Linked DNA regions of Homo sapiens: region 2 is linked to region 1. A link means that fine-mapping ties the variant in region 1 to the expression of a gene that starts in the linked region. Tissue or cell type: whole blood. Region 1 holds a variant in brackets; the other region holds the start of a gene. All regions are shown on one strand. Distances are from middle to middle.

Region 1 (8,103 bases):
TGTTGAGGAACAAAAATGAAAGAAGAGGGTGCGAGTCATGTAGACATTTGTGGAAGACTGTTTTGAGCACAGGGAACAGTGCACAGTTCTTGGAGTGGAAACATGCTTCATGTATGTGTTCCAGAGACACTGGAGGCCAGTGTGGCCGGAGAAGAGCGTGTGACAGGGAGAGTGGGAGAGGGGTTGGTAGGAGGCGAGCTTAGAGATGAACAGACATGTCTCCATTGATGTACAGCCATGGGCCAGTTTCCCTAAGTGTGTCTAGCAGGTGTGTGTGCTCATACTTGTGTCCTTGTGAGTTAGTGAGGGTGCCTGTGTTTGTGCATGTGAGTGTGTGCATGTTTGTGTGTCTCCTTGTGTGTGTGTGTCTGTGTATGCTTTTGTGTGTCTATGTGTGAGTATGTATATATGTGTCTATGTCCATATATATGAGCACGTGTATTTCTGTGTGTGTCTATATATGTGTATATGAGTATGTGAGTATCTAGGTGTACGAATCTGTGTGTGTGAGACACAGTGTGTGTGTGTGGCTGTGTCTGTTTCTGTGTCTGTGTCTGTGTCTGTGTGTGAGCATATGTGTTTATATGTGTGTGTATGAGTATGTGTCTCTGGGGTGTAAGAATGTGTGTGTGTGCCTGTGTGTGACTGTGTGTGAGTCTGTGTGAGCATGTGTGTGTATGAGTATGTATCTCTCTCTGGGGTGTAAGAATGTGTGTGTGTGTGTGTATGCGCCTGTGCCTGTGTGTGTGTCTGAGCATATGTGTCTATGTGTGTGTATGAGTGTGTGTCTCTATCTGGGGTGTAAGAGTGAGTGTGCCTGTGACTGTGTGTGGTTGTGTGTCTTCATGTGTGTTTGTGTATGTGTGTTTTTGTGTGTGTATGCCTGTGCCTGTGTGTGGCTGTGTGTCTTTGTGTGTGTCTGTGTCTGTGTGTCTGTGTGTATGAGTGTGTGTGCCTGTGCCTGTGTGTGGCTGTGTGTGTCTTTGTGTGTTTCTGTGTGAGTATGTGTGTCTATGTGTGTGTATGAGTGTGTCTGTCTCTGGGGTGTAAGAATGTGTGTGTGAGACAGTGTGTGTGCCTGTGCCTGTGCCTGTGTGTGTCTGTGTGTGTCTGTACTATGTGTGTCTGTGTGGCGGGAGGTTAGGGCTGAAACCAAGCCATCCTTGTGTTTGGGGATGGAGGCTGTGTTCCTAACTCATTGCCCTCAACTCTGCTAACCCTCCCTTCAGGCAAGTGCCTGTGTGGGCTGCACTGCCCCTGGTCAGGCAGGCCATGGTAGGAGTGGCCCGGCATGGCCCCGGAGCCCTTCCTGCCCCTCTCTGATATTGGACCCTTCCCTCATATGACTCCCTAGGGCTGAACAAGACATCCTCTTTCTCCTGCGAAGCCCATAACGCCAAGGGGGTCACCACATCCCGCACAGCCACCATCACAGGTGACAGAGTTGGGAGGTGGGGAGCTGGGCGTCAGAGGGTGGGGTTTGGGTCCGGGGTCAGAGTGGGGGCAGAGAGCAGGGTAGGGAGCTTTGAGCAAAGGCTCCCCAGGGTCAATCTCTCCCGTTTGTCCACAGTGCTCCCCCAGCAGCCCCGTAACCTCCACCTGGTCTCCCGCCAACCCACGGAGCTGGAGGTGGCTTGGACTCCAGGCCTGAGCGGCATCTACCCCCTGACCCACTGCACCCTGCAGGTGAGACTCCCAAACTTGGTTCATTTCAGTCTCAGGCCTCCTTCCACCCACATCCACAACCCCCATCCTCTCCCTGGGAACCCACCACTTCTCGGCCACTGTTGAGAAGCAGTAGAGCCTGGGGGGTTAAGCCAGATGTCCTGGGTTCGAATCCTAGCTCCACCACCTTCTGGCTGTGTGACCTTGGGTAGGTGGCTTAATCTGTCCGGGGCTCAGCTCTCTTGTCTACAAAATGGACATAATGGTAGTGCCTACCTGGTATGCTTAGTGTGAAAATTCAATGAGTGAATGCAAATTACCAACTTAAAATGGTATATAGAACATAGGAAACAAATTTAACAAAATTGGCCAGGCGCGGTGGCTCACACCTGTAATCCCAGCACTTTGGGAGGCCGAGGTGGGCGGATCACTTGAGGTCAGGAGTTCGAGACCAGCCTGGCCAACATAGTGAAACCACATTTCTACTAAAAATACAAAAATTAACTGGGCCTGGTGGGACGCACTTGTAGTCCCAGCTACTGGGGAGGCTGAGGCAGGAGAATTGCTTGAACCTGGGAGGCGGAGGTTGCAGTGAGCCAAGATCGTGCCACTGCTCTCCAGCCTGGGTGACAGAGCGAGACTCTGTCTCAAAAAAAAAAAAGAAACAACAACAAAAAAAATTTAACAAAATGAAAATGATCAGCTGTTTTAATTATTTTCAGTATTAGTGATGTTAACTCTAGCCAGAGTGGGAGCCCTGAGACAGCAGAGTCTGGAGCCATTTCTGTCACCACTGGATACCCAGAACCCTCCACTTCTCCCATCCCAGCCCTGGCCACTCTGTGTGGTCACTGTCTGGGGATGGGTCTGTCCCCTACTGGAATGTGAGCTCTGACAGGGCAGGGCTGGAGCTGTCCCAGTCACCACTGGCTCCTCATTCTTGCCCAGCACAGGACCAGACATAGAGTAGGGAATATTCGCTAGAAGGATATATTACAACCCAGATGAGCTAGACCCAGCCTCTGCCCTCAAGTTGCTCCTAGAATAAGAAAACCAAAACCAGGCCAGGTGTGGTGGCTTACACCTGTAACCCCAGCACTTTGGGAGGCCAAGGCTGGTGGATCACCTGAGGTCAGGAGTTCGAGACCAGCCTGGCTAACATGGTGAAACCCCATTTCTACTAAAAATACAAAAAATTAGCCGGGTGTGGTGGCACACACCTGTAATCCCAGCTACTCAGGAGGCTGAGGCAGGAGAATCCCTTGAACCCTGGAGGCAGAGGTTGCAGTGAGCCGAGATCGTGCCATTGCACTCCAGCTTGGGTAACACGAGCGAACTTCCGTCTCAAGAAAAAAAAAAAAAGAAAGAAAGAAAGAAGAAAACCAAAACCAAAACAAAACTCACAGATCTGTAAATATAAGGCCTAATTCTGGTCTGAAGTTCTCTGAGATTAGAAAGTTGGAGATGGGGGGTGGACAGTGCCTATGATGGTAGATGACAGTAATGAAGAATGACCAATTTCTACTGAGTGTCCGCTGTGCACCGGGTCTTGCATTAACGCACACCTGCTCGTGTGTTTGTGAAGGAGGGTCTATGGATACACCCATTTTCCAGATGAAGAAACTAAGGCTCAGAGTGGTTAACCAGATTGTCCAAGGTCACATCAAACCCATGTCATGCTCCTAACCTCCTTAGAAACTGTTTTTTGTTTTTTCTTTTCTTTTTTTTTTGAGACAGAGTCTCGCTCTGTTACCCAGACTGGAGTGCTGTGGCGTGATCACGGCTTATTGCAACCTCCGCCTCCTAGGTTCAAGCAATTCTCTTGCCTCAGCCTCCTGAGTAGCTGGTATTACAGGCGCCCACCACCACGCCCAGCTAATTTTTGTATTTTTAGTAGAGACAGGGTTTCACCATGTTGGTCAGGCTGGTCTCGAACTCTTGACCTCAAGTGACCCGCCCACCTCGGCCTCCCAAAGTGCTGGGATTACAGGCGTGAGGCACCGCGCTGGGCCCTGAGAAAATGTTTAGAGTCAGTGCTTGATTAAACAGGAATTGTCTTATACTTACATGCTCTGAGCACAACCCCATCTGCTTGTCGTTTTAAACCTAGAAAATAGTGGCTATTGGCTGGGCATGATAGCTCACGCCTGTAATCCCAGCACTTCGGGGGGCTGAGGCAGGTCTGTACAAAAAATTCAAAAAAATTAGCTCAGTGTGGTGGCACACACCTGTAGTCCCAGATACTCGGGAGGCTGAAGTGGGACAATCACCTGAGCCTGGCAGTCAAGGCTACAGTGAGGCAGGATTGAACCTCTGCTCTCCAGCTTGGGTGACAGAGTAAGACTCTGTCTGAGAAAAAAAAAAACAAAAAACAGTGGCTATTAATCTTCCCGTTTTCAAGGTGAGGAACTGAGGCCCAGAGAGGGGCCCCCTCTCTGGGCCTCAGTTCCTCCCATCCTCCTCCCCTCCCCGGGGCTAGAAAGCCGAAGCTGAGATTCAATCCCAGAGGCCAGCTGGATTTGGGAGACCTCAAATGCCAGGTCAGGCATAAGTTGCACTCTACCCACATCACCAAGTGTCCCCAGGAAAGCAGAAGTGTGTCCTCTTCCCTTTCCAGGTCTCACTTCCTGCTGCACATGGGCTAGGGCTGA[A/C]GAGTTCCAGTGGGAGGGTCACAGCCGTCCCAGGGAAAAGAGAAGTGGGAGCAGGCATGGGGAGACCAACTGTCTGTACCCATCTCCTCTCTGTCCTGGTAGAGGTTCCTCTTCCTGTCTGTCACTGCAGGTCAGAGAGCAGGCATGGTGACAGCCTCACCCCCTCCTCGTACCCACCATCTGCCCCCACTCCTCCCCAGGTCTCATGGTGGTGTCATCTCCCTCCATGGGGGCTGTGTGACTTTGGGCAAGTTGCTGAACCTCTCTGGGCCTTGGCTTCCCTGTCTGTAAAATGGGGATGAGAAAAGAAATTGACCCCATAGGGTGGTAGTGCGAAGTCAATGAGTTCATCCAGTAATGTGCTTGACAGAGAGCTTGGTACATATTTGGCACTCAAGAAATATTTGCTAGGCCGGGTGCCATGGCTCACACCTGTAATACTAGACCTTTGGGAGGCCGAGGCAGGTGGATCGCTTGAGCCCAGGAGTTTGAGACCTGCCTGGCCAACATGGTGAAACGCCATCTCTCCAAATAATTAAAAAATTAGGTGGGGCTGTCATTACACCACTGCACTCCAGCTTGTGTGACAGAGTGAGACCCTGCCTAAAAAAAAGAAAAAAGAAAAAGAAAGAAAGAAAGAAAACAAACGTTAGCTGTTGATAATTATAATGTGCAAAGCAGTTTATATGCATCATGTCATTAAACCTTATACCCTGACAAGTAAGAACTGTGATGCCCATTTTCCAGAGACAGAAACTGAGACTCAGAGAAGTTAAGACACTCACTCTAGGTCACACAGCAAACAACATCCAACACAGGACTTAGATCCAAGGAATCTGGCTTTAGAGCCCACACCCTGTGGCAGTAAACTCCTTCCTGACATACTGTGTGGCTGTATGGCTGGAGTCTCCAGGGTGAAGGGGAAGCCCTTGGCTGCACCATTCCTGAGGCGTGGCTGTGAATTGTGTGGTTATGGGGGTTTTGTGGTTCCATGTGGCAGGGCTATACAGATGTGTACACCAGTGGTGGCCCCCTCCACTCTGAGTGTGCCATTCCTCGGGTGGAATAGGTATGGGAACCTGTGCCGCTATGCAGAGCTTGACACTTGTTGCCAGGAAACACACATAAAATAATAAGTGACAGGCCGGGCACGGTGGCTCGTGCCTGTGATCCCAGCACTTTGGGAGGCTGAGCGGGCAGATCACCTGAGGTAGGGAGTTTGAGACCAGCCTGACCAACATGGAGTAACCCTGTCTCTACTAAAAATACAGAATTAGCCGGGTGTGGTGGTGCATGCCTGTAATCCTAGCTACTCAGGAGGTTGAGGCAAGAGAATCACTTGAACCTGGGAGGCGGAGGTTGCAGTGAGCCGAGATCATGCCATTGTACTCCAGCCTGGGCAACAAGAGCGAAACTCCATCTCAAATAAATAAATAAATAAATAGATAGATAGATAGATAGATAGATAGATAGATAGATAGATAATAAATGACAGTATGCACAAGCAGTCTTCTAAATGCTTACATGCCCCAATTCAGTCAACCCTGTGAAGTGGGGAGCCACTGTCATCCCATTTTACAGGTGAGAAGACTGAGGCACACAGCTAGGGAATGATAGAGCCTGGATTTGAGCCCCAGATCCAGCATCCGTGCTCCTCAGCACTAGGCTAAACTGCCTCTGTGCACAGACAAGAGGTATTGTTACCATTACTGATATTCTTACCGCCAGTAGAGCAAAGACTCTGGGGACAGGATGGGGTTTAGGTCCCAGCTTCATCAGTGACAAACTGATGACCTTGAACAAGTGATTCCGTCTCTCTGGGCCTCAGTGTTGTCATCTGTACAGTGGGAATAAGCATAATGCTTACCACAGGACAACAGGATTGATGTGAGGGCCAAATGAATTCAGATTTGTCAAGGGCTAAGAAAGGCACTCAGTACATGTTGGACGTGTTTTATCTTTTTTTATTAAGATAATATATAACATAGTCAGGTGAGGTGGCTCACGCCTGTAATCCCAGCACTTTGGGAGGCCGAGGCAGGTGGATTACCTGAGGTCAGGAGTTTGAGACCAGCCTGGGCAACATGGTGAAACCCTTTCTCTACACAGAATAAAAAAAAAGCCGGGTGTGGTAGCTCACACCTGTAATCCCAGCACTTTGGGAGGCCGAGGGGGGCGGATCACTTGAGATCAGGAGTTCAAGACCAGCCTGACCAACATGATGAAACCTCGTCTCTACTAAAAATACAAAAAAGTTAGCCAGGCATGGTGGCACATGACTGTAGCCCCAGCTACTCGAGAGGCTGAAGCAGAAGAATTACTTGAGCCCAGGAGGCGGAGGTTGCAGTGAGCCGAGATTGTACCACTGCACTCCAACCTGAGTGACAGAGCAAGACTCTGTCTAAAAAAAAAAAAAAAAAAAAATTAGTCAAGCATGGTTGCTCACGCCTGTAATCCCATCTACTTGGGAGGCCGAGGCATGAGAATTGCCTGAACCTGGGAGGCGGAGATTGCAGTGAGCCGAAATCACGCCACTGCACTCCAGCTCAGGTGATGAAATGAGACTCATAGGCCGGGCACGGTGGCTCACACCTGTAATCCCAGCACTTTGAGAGGCTGAGGCGGGCGGATTGCCTGAGGTCAAGAGTTTGAGACCAGCCTGACTAACATGGTGAAACGCTGTCTCTACTGAAAATACGGCAATTAGTCGGGCGTGGTGGTACGCGTAGTCCCAGCTACTTGGGAGGCTGAGGCAGAAGAATTGCTTGAACCTAGGAGACGGAGGTTGCAGTGAGCCAAGATCTCACCACTGCACTATAGCCTGGGCGACAGAGCAAGACTCCCTCTCCAAAAAAAGGAAAAAAAAAAAAAAAGAAAAAGAAATGAGATGTATAACATGCATAATCTTCAGTGTACCTCTAGATCAAGCTCGTCTAACACATGTGGCCCAGGATGGCTTTGAATGCGGCCCAACATAAGTTCGTAAACTTTCTTAAAACATTATGAGATTTGTTTGTGATTTTTTTTTTTAACGCATCAGCTATCGTTAGTGTTAGCGTATTTTATGTGTGGCCCAAGACAATTCTTCTTCCACTGTGGTCCAAGAAAGTCAAAAGATTGGACACCTTTGAGATTGTTTAACACACATATTCACCATGTAACCACCATCCAAATCAAGACACAGACCCTTCCAGTCCCCAAGAAGTCTCCCTCAGGCCCCAGAGATGGCCACCCTTCTGCTTCTAGAACATTGCTTTTGCCTGTAGTATAATGTCATATAAATGGGGCCTCACAGTATCGTGCTATTATTATGATGATCATTACTATTATTTGAGACAGAGTCTTGCTCTGTTACCCAGGCTGGAGTGCAGTGGTGTGATCTTAGCTCACTGTAACCTCTGCCTCCCAGGTTCAAGTGGTTCTCCTATCGCAGCCTCCCGAGTAGCTGGGATTACAGGCGAGCGCCACCACATCCAGCTAATTTTTTACATTTTTGGAAGAGATGGGGTTTCACCACGTTGGCCAGGCTGGTCTTGAACTCCTAACCTCAAGTGATCGCCCACCTTGGCCTCCCAAAGTGCTGGGATTACAGGCGGGAGCCACCGTGCCCAGTCTATTTGCGTTATTATTGTCATCACACTATTATTATCGGTGCTGACCACCCGCCATGCACTGTGGCATCCTTTGGGCATAACTACACTTAATCTTTAAACAATCCTGTAAGGCACTTGATCCTCTAAGGCCCCGTGTGCCCAAGGAAAAAACTGAGGCTCAGAGAGGGAAGAGT
Region 2 (8,086 bases), 41 kb before region 1:
CCAGGCTGGAGTGCAGTGGCACAATCTCAGCTCACTGCAAGCTCCACCTCCCAGGTTCACGCCATTCTCCTGCCTCAGCCTGCCGAGTAGCTGGGACTATAGACGCCTGACACCACGCCCGGCTAATTTTTTGTATTTTTAGTAGAGATGGGGTTTCACCGCGTTAGCCAGGATGGTCTTGATCTCCTGACCTCGTGATCTGCCCGTCTCGGCCTCCCAAAGTGCTGGGATTACAGGCGTGAGCCACCACGCCCGGCAAGAACTTTTAAGTTTTCTTATCTATAGGATGTTGCAATCATCATCTTTAAACATTAGACATGGAATCTTTATAATAATCTTGCCATATATATATATATATATATATTTTTTTTTTTTTTTTTTTTTTTTTTTTGACACTGAGTCTCACTTTATCGCCCAGGCTGGAGTACAGTGGCACAATCTTGGCTCACTACAACCTCCACCTCCTGGGTTCAAGTGATTCTCCTGCCTCAGCCACCCCAGTGGCTGGGGACTACAGGCGTGCACCACCACATCCAGTTAATTTTTTTTTTTTTTTTGAGACGGAGTCTCGTTCTGTCGCCCAGGCTAGAGTTCAGTGGGGAGATCTCAGCTCACTGAAACCTCCGCCTTGTGGGTTCAAGCAAGCAATTCTCTGCCACAGCCTCCCGACTAGCTGGGATTAGAAGTGCCCACCACCACGTCTGGCTAATTTTTGTATTTTTAGTAGAGACGGGGTTTCATCATCTTGGCCAGACTGGTCTTGAACTCCTGACCCCGTGATCCACCCACCTCGGTCTCCCAAAGTACTGGGATTACAGGCGTGAGCCACTGCGCCTGGCCGGTTAATTTTTATATTTTCAGTAGAGACAGGATTTCACCACGCTGGCTAGGCTGGTCTCAAACTCCTGACCTCAGGTGATCCACCCGCCTTGGCCACTGTGCCTGGTCAACAGTCTTTCTATTTTTATTCTAGGCTGGAGACCTTTGTCTCAAAAACAAAACGAGAATGCTCCCTGGAGTCTGTACTGATCCCTCTTCCCTCCCACCGTAGATTAGTTTTCTCCTTGCATTTAAAAAGACCTTTCTGGCTGGCATCCAGTGAATGAATTGTGGAGGAGGGGGAGAAGGAGAGAGGAAGCAGGTAGCTCAGTGGGGAAGCTACTGCAAAATCCTGGCAAGCAATGACAGTACCTTGAATCAGGGCTGGTGTCAGTTGGATCAGGGTGGTAGGGAAAGGAGGAAATGGATAAATTTGGAATGTATTTGGAGGTAGAGCCAGCAGGATTTGCTGACAAACTGGGTTTAAAGTCAAAGAGAGAAATCAAGGTTAAACCTGACAAATAAAAACAGATGTGGTCTCAGGCGAGTAGAGACATTATGCAGAAAGACTATTGCATCAGGGGGAAAGATGGCTGTAAAAACAATGAACAAGACCAGAATCTGATAACCCAGAAGGATGTGTTGTCTAATGAAACTAATTTTTTCCCCTCCTCCTATTTTTTTTTTGAGACGGAGTTTCACTCTTGTTGCCCAAGCTGGAGTGCAATGGCGCGATCTCGGCTCACTGCAACCTCCGCCTCCCGGATTCAAGCGATTCTCCTGCCTCAGCCTCCCTGAGTAGCTGGGATTACAGGCATGCACCACCACACCTGGCTAATTTTGTATTTTTAGTAGAGACGGGGTTTCACCATGTTGGCCAGGCTGGTCTCAAACTCCTGACCTCAGGTGATCTGCCCACCTCAGCCTCCCAAAGTACTGGGATTGCAGGCATGAGACACCGCGCCCGGCCTCTCCTATATTTTGTTGTCATCAGCAAGTGAAAAGATGGTGATACCTTTTACAGAGGTAAGGAAGGAGGTGAGAGAAAGTATTCCCAGATGGGGTGGGAAGCTGGTACAGCCCACTTTGCAGGAGGTGGGGGAATCGGGAATTCTTTTATATCCATGAAGTTTGAGATGTCTGTTAGCTCTCCCAGGGGTAGAACAGAGGGAGCAGATAGGCTCAAGGTTGGATTTGGAACGTCCTAGAAACCTTCCAGAACAAGGCAAAGGAGGAACTGAGAACTGGCATTTACTTCATAGCAAGAGCGTATGAGCCTCCCCACCCCTCCTCCTTTGGCTTCAGGGCACCCCTGGAATGTTAGAGGCTAGAATCAATGCTAAAGAAGACCACAGTCAAGGATTCCCCAGACTCCAGGGAGCACTCTGGCTATGCTCTTGAGAGAAAGGGCTCTGGACTAGAATACAAATTGCAAGATTGCAGGCCGGGGGCAGTGGCTCATGCCTGTAATCCCAGCACTGTGGGAGGCCGAGGTGGGTAAATTGCCTGAGGTCAGGAGGTCGAGACCAGCCTGGCCAACATGGTGAAACCCCAACTCTACTAAAAATACAAAAGTTAGCTGGGAGTGGTGGTGGGCGCTTGTAATCCCAGCTACTCAGGAGGCTGAGGCAGGAGAATCACATGAACCCAGGAGGCAGAGATTGCAGTGAGCCAAGATCGTGCCACTGCACTCCAGCCTGGGCAACAGAGCGAGACCCTGTCTCAAAAAAAGATTGTGAAAATTCTAAGAATCTAATTTTTTTTTTTTTTTTTTTTTTTTTGAGACGGAGTCTCGCTCTGTCGCCCAGGCTGGAGTGCAGTGGCGGGATCTCGGCTCACTGCAAGCTCCGCCTCCCGGGTTCACGCCATTCTCCTGCCTCAGCCTCCCAAGTAGCTGGGACTACAGGCGCCCGCCACTACGCCCGGCTAATTTTTTGTATTTTTAGTAGAGACGGGGTTTCACCATTTTAGCCAGGATGGTCTCGATCTCCTGACCTCGTGATCCGCCCGCCTCAGCCTCCCAAAGAATCTAATATTTTAAAACTCCAGCATATGCAACTCAAAGCTCATCTAATTATACACTTAAGAGTTATGTATTTCATTGTATATAAGATACCTTGAGGAACAAAAAGTATCTGTAAACAAATACTGAGCTCTAGCTACTGATATGCATGCTGATGTATTTGGGAGTGAAGTGTACTGGTATCTGCAACTGACTTTGAAATGCTTAAAAAAAAATCAATGGATAGGCAAAATGAACAGATATGTAATGAAAAAAGGGCCAGGCACAGTGGCTCATGCCTGTAATCCCAGCACTTTGGGAGGCTGAGGTGAGAAGATCACCTGAGGTCAGGAGTTTGAGACCAGCCTGGTCAACATGGCAAAAACCCCGTCTCTACTAAAAATACAAAAAATAGCCAGGCATGGTGGTGCACGCCTGTAATCGCAGCTACTTGAGAGGCTGAAGCAGGAGAATTGCTTGAACCCGGGAGGCAGAGGTTGCAATGAGCCAAGACTGTATGCTATTGCACTCCACTCTGGGCAACAGAGTGAGACTCTATCTCAAACAAAAAAAGAATAGATAGGTAACAAAGAAAGGATAATAAAATGGTGGAATCTGATGGGTATACAGGTGTTCACTGTATGTTTGAAATTTTAATATTTTTATAATAAAATACGAAATCAAAATGCAAAGCAAACAAAGTAACTGCCCTGCTGAAAACCCCTCCAGACAGCTTCCGTTTGCAATAGAAATAAAATGCAGTCTTTTCCAAGACCTTGCAAGATGGCCCCTGCAGACTTCATGAATCTTATCTCCTACATTCAATCTTTGAAAATATAACAAATATTTATTGAGTGCCTACTGTGTGTCAGGCACTGCACTATATGTTGGGGATACAGCAGTGAACCAAACCTACAATAATTCATGCACAAATGGTTCTAACATTCTTCCTTCTCAAGAAGCCCATTCCCCTGGCAGGCCTTCTCACTTCCTGAAATTGTTTTCATCTCATCTTCATCTGCATGTGGATATGAGCTCAGGAAGGCCAGAGCCCTTCTCTCCATCGCTCATAGCTGCACCCTCGGGTCTAGAACAAGGTCTTGTTTATAGTAAGACCTCAATAACAGTTAGTTGCAGAAATATTAGCTAACATCTATTTAGTGCTTGTTACATGTGCACCTGCGTCTGCTTTAAATGGTGTGCACAGATGTACTATTTAATCCTGAAAACTAGCCCCATTTTACAAGGCTAACAGAGGCACAGAGGAATTAGGCTGTGAATTCAAGCAGTCTGGCTTCAGCCATCACGGTCCTAACCGCTCTGCAAACTGCCTCTAAACGAATGAATGAATGACTCAATCATTCTAACTGGCCCAAGTCAAAATATTAACTCTGCCACTCAGCCAAGTTGACCTGGGGCCAACCGATTTATCTCCCTGGACTTCAGATTGTTTATCCTTAAAGGTCAAGTCCTTCCTCTCAGTTCGTGAAGATGTAAGATGCTGGAGAAAATTGACTCAAAGACACCCCATACACGCACGCACACAGGAACCCACATCCGAACAATGAGCGAGGTAGGAGCTGGGGAGAGTGGCGCGGGGTCACCGCCAGATGCGGGGTGTGGCAACCTCCAGGCGGCCAAAGTCTCTGACTTCCAGGTTCTTCTGTTTGCTTACTCCCTATCCGGGGGCCCAAGGCGCTGTCTCCGCCGCCCAAGCCCCGCGTAAACCTGGGTGACCTCGGAGACATCCGTTGGAGCATGAGTTCCCGACATCAGGCGGCGGCGGTGGTCCGGGAGAAACCCGGCGGCGGGGAGATAAGCCTGCCCAGGAGGCAGGGGGCTGGGCTAGCTGCCCCGCCCCGCGCCTGACTTCGTTGGGGAGGGAGACGCCCGGCTCCCGCCCCTAACTAGCCCAGCCGCGCGGAGCGCCTGGGAGAGGAGAAGGAGCCGACCTGCCGAGATGGAGGCGACCGGCACCTGGGCGCTGCTGCTGGCGCTGGCGCTGCTCCTGCTGCTGACGCTGGCGCTGTCCGGGACCAGGGCCCGAGGCCACCTGCCCCCCGGGCCCACGCCGCTACCACTGCTGGGAAACCTCCTGCAGCTACGGCCCGGGGCGCTGTATTCAGGGCTCATGCGGGTAAGGGGCTCTGGGGACGTCCTGGCTAGGGGTGGGAGGATTCCTGGGAGAGAAACCCGAGTGCCAGGGTGAGGGGCTTTTCGGGTATCCTAGGGAGGAGGCAGGGGCAGGGGTCCCAAGGCAAAGGGGCTGCTGCTGTCCTGGGGTTGGGGGCAGGAGCAGGTTGTCCAGGGCTGAGAAGGGGAGAGGTGCCCGGGAGAGAGGATCGTGGGGTGGGGGACCAGGGCTAGGAGGGGCAGAGACCTCTGCCTACAGAATCCTGGGAAGGTGATGGGCAGGGACCGAGGCTGAAAGAGACAGGAGTCCTCCAGCCGAGGAGAAGCTGATGCAGCTGGGCTTGTCCCAGAGGGAGAGGTAGCTGGAGCCATACAGGTGGGGCATGCTGAAGAGGGCACAAAGAAGAAAAGGGGGAGGCGTCCCTGCGGGGAGTTGGAGGCAGAGAAGAGGCTGGAGGGTTGCAGGCTCAGAGAGGGGGTCCCGCTGAAGGAATCTGCCAGCAGAGAATGCAGGATGGGAGGATGGGTGGAGCTCAGTTGGGAGTTCCTGGGACTGGGGAGGAAGGAGAGCAAGAAAGAAGGCAGAGGCAGCCCCAGCCTTAGGGGATAGCAGGTGGGAGTGGGCAGAGGCCTGAAGTTTCCCATTCAAAAGGATTCTGGGTGACTTCAAGGACGTAGAAAAAAGGGTGGGGTCTTGGGGGAGAGATGGGGCGGATACTCAGCAGTGTCTGCTCCAGAATTTCAGGGTTTTGTGGTGACTGAAAGGGGTGGCTGGATATTTGGGGGGCAGGGAGGGCCCTAAGGAATTAAGGGAGACCCAAACTGCTTCTGGATTGCCCAGCGTCAGAGGTTAGGGTTCAGCAGGAAGCAAGGGAACGACAGGAAGTTGGGGGATGCCACTGAAGGATGTACTGGGGGAGGAGGCCCGGGAGCCTAGTGCAAAAAGAGAACTGAGCCTCAGCTATTTCTGCTGGGATGGGGGCAGGTTCCTGGTAGAGGGCGTAGAAGCTAGACCCGGTGGCTCCTCAAGTGACAGGGGCCATGATGGAGACACCTTGGATCGAAGAGGTCACAGCACCCTCCTCTTTCTTCCTCCCTACCCCCAGCTGAGTAAGAAGTACGGACCGGTGTTCACCATCTACCTGGGACCCTGGCGGCCTGTGGTGGTCCTGGTTGGGCAGGAGGCTGTGCGGGAGGCCCTGGGAGGTCAGGCTGAGGAGTTCAGCGGCCGGGGAACCGTAGCGATGCTGGAAGGGACTTTTGATGGCCATGGTAAGTCAAGGGCTGCTAGGCCCTCCGCTCACAGCCTGCCACCACTTACTGGTGTGTGACCTTTGCACATGGCTTAGTCCCTCTGTTGCCTCATCTGTCAAATGGAGTGATAACAGTGCCCATCAGCCGGGTGCAGTGGCTAGTGCCTGAAATCCCAACACTTTGGGAGGCGGAGGTGGGTGGATCACTTGAGGTCAGGAGTTCGAGACCAGCCTGGCCAACATGGTGAAACCCTGTCTCTACTAAAAATATAAAAATTAGCTGGGCATGGTGGTGCGTACCTGTAATCCCAGATACTTGGGAGGTTGAGGCAGGAGAATCGCTTGAACCCGGGAGGCAGATGTTGCAGTGAACCAAGACTGTGCCACTGCACTCCAGTCTGGGCAACAGAGTGAGCCTCCATCTCAAACAAACAAACAAAAAGCAGTGCCCATCATGTAGGATTGAGTGATTGAGTGAGGACTGAGCCTTGTGCAAAGTGAGCACTCACTAATCACCAGGTTGTAGTATCAGTGATAACCATCAATGATCCAGGTAAAGCCCTGAGGGTTCAGAAAGATGCCGGAGCGCTTTCAAGGTGCTGGGGATTGGTGGGCAAGCCCTCGAATAATAGAAACAGTTCTCTGTATTACAACAGAAAGCAGGAGGCCCATGCTGGGTGCTGCCAGGAACTCAGTAGTAACTAAGACAGCACCGGTGCTGCTTCCCCAGCGCACCTAGGCCAGTGGGGAAACAGACTCACCACACAGTCCCAGCCCAGAGTGGTCAGGGCCAAGATGGGGAAGCACGGGGAGAAAGGTCAGGGTGGGATGGGGAGGGGTCAGGGCAAGAGGGGTCAGGGCCAGGCTGAGGGAAGCCCTGGGACTGTAGGAATTTAGAGGAGGTACCTGACCCGGCATGTTTGGTGAGGGAGCTTCAGGAAGTCTTCCTGGAAGAGAGGCTGTCGGAGCTGAGACTCATAAGATGAGTGGGGAGGGTGTTCCAGGCAGAAAGACCAGCACCTACAAAAGCATGACTTTGAGAGAAGCATTCATCCATTCAACTGATGAATTTTCAGACTGGGCACGCTGGCTCATGCCTGTAATCCCAGCACTTTGGAAGGCTGAATGGGGAGGATGACTTGAGCCTAGGCATTTGTGACAAGCCTGGGCAACATGGTGAGACCCTGCCTCCACAAAACAAACAAACAAACAAAAAATCATTATACCTGGTACCATGGGTACCAGGTACATAGAAATGACTCAGGCAGATATGGTGTCCTCTCCTACTGTGGGAGAGGCGGGCTTATACTGCAGTAAGACAATAGAGGGAGGGAATATAATCCTAAAATGAGAGGTACAGATTTGAGAGCAAACACAGGGCACAGGCATATGTACGAGGGTAAAGAGGGAATCAGGGAAGGCTTCTCAGAGAAGGTGACATTTAAGCCGGGACATGAAGGATGAACGAGTTAGTTCACCAAGGATGGGATGGAAAGGGGTGAGAGTGATGGAGGCAGAGGGAACTGCAGGATCATAGGCCTAGACAGGGGATCCTGACGCCCTTGAGGAAGTGAGAGAAGACCAGCGCAGTCGTAGTGGGTTAAGTAACAAAGCTGAGAAGCCAGGGAAATCCCTGGTCATGCAGGGCCTGTGAGTCACGTCAGAGTGTTTGGGCTTTTGTTTTTCCTGGGAGCAGTCGATTTTAAGCAGGGAACAGCTGTATTCAGAGTTGGGAAGATCCTGTGGTTGCTGCCTGAAGGGGATGAAACTGGAGGCTAGGAGCCCAGGGTGATAGGGAGGATCCAGGGTGATGGGGAGGCTGGGAGGTCCGCGGTGATGGACCAGGGCTGGGGCCAGGGGATGGGGAGGAAGGAGTAAT

The links. PIP is the estimated chance that this variant, and not a neighbour inherited with it, causes the effect.
Region 2: it holds the start of CYP2S1, and the variant in region 1 is fine-mapped to the expression of CYP2S1 in whole blood (TOPMed, PIP 0.93).

The regions. Positions count from the first base shown.
Region 1 is chr19:41,229,613-41,237,715 of GRCh38, forward strand. AXL (AXL receptor tyrosine kinase) reads left to right here. Exons shown (of 20, transcript NM_021913.5): 5 at 1,355-1,435; 6 at 1,571-1,686. Among named protein-coding and RNA genes, the nearest start is that of AXL, 14 kb to the left of the region's middle. The variant A/C (reference allele first, on the strand shown) is at 4,317.
Region 2 is chr19:41,188,484-41,196,569 of GRCh38, forward strand. CYP2S1 (cytochrome P450 family 2 subfamily S member 1) reads left to right here and starts at 4,736. Exons shown (of 9, transcript NM_030622.8): 1 at 4,736-4,958; 2 at 6,061-6,226. The coding sequence starts at 4,782. LOC124904790 reads right to left here and starts at 4,569. Exons shown (of 3, transcript XM_047439802.1): 1 at 4,497-4,569. The coding sequence starts at 4,569. It also overlaps the pseudogene RN7SL718P. RefSeq lists enhancers at 4,262-4,762, 6,073-6,585 and a silencer at 4,675-4,764.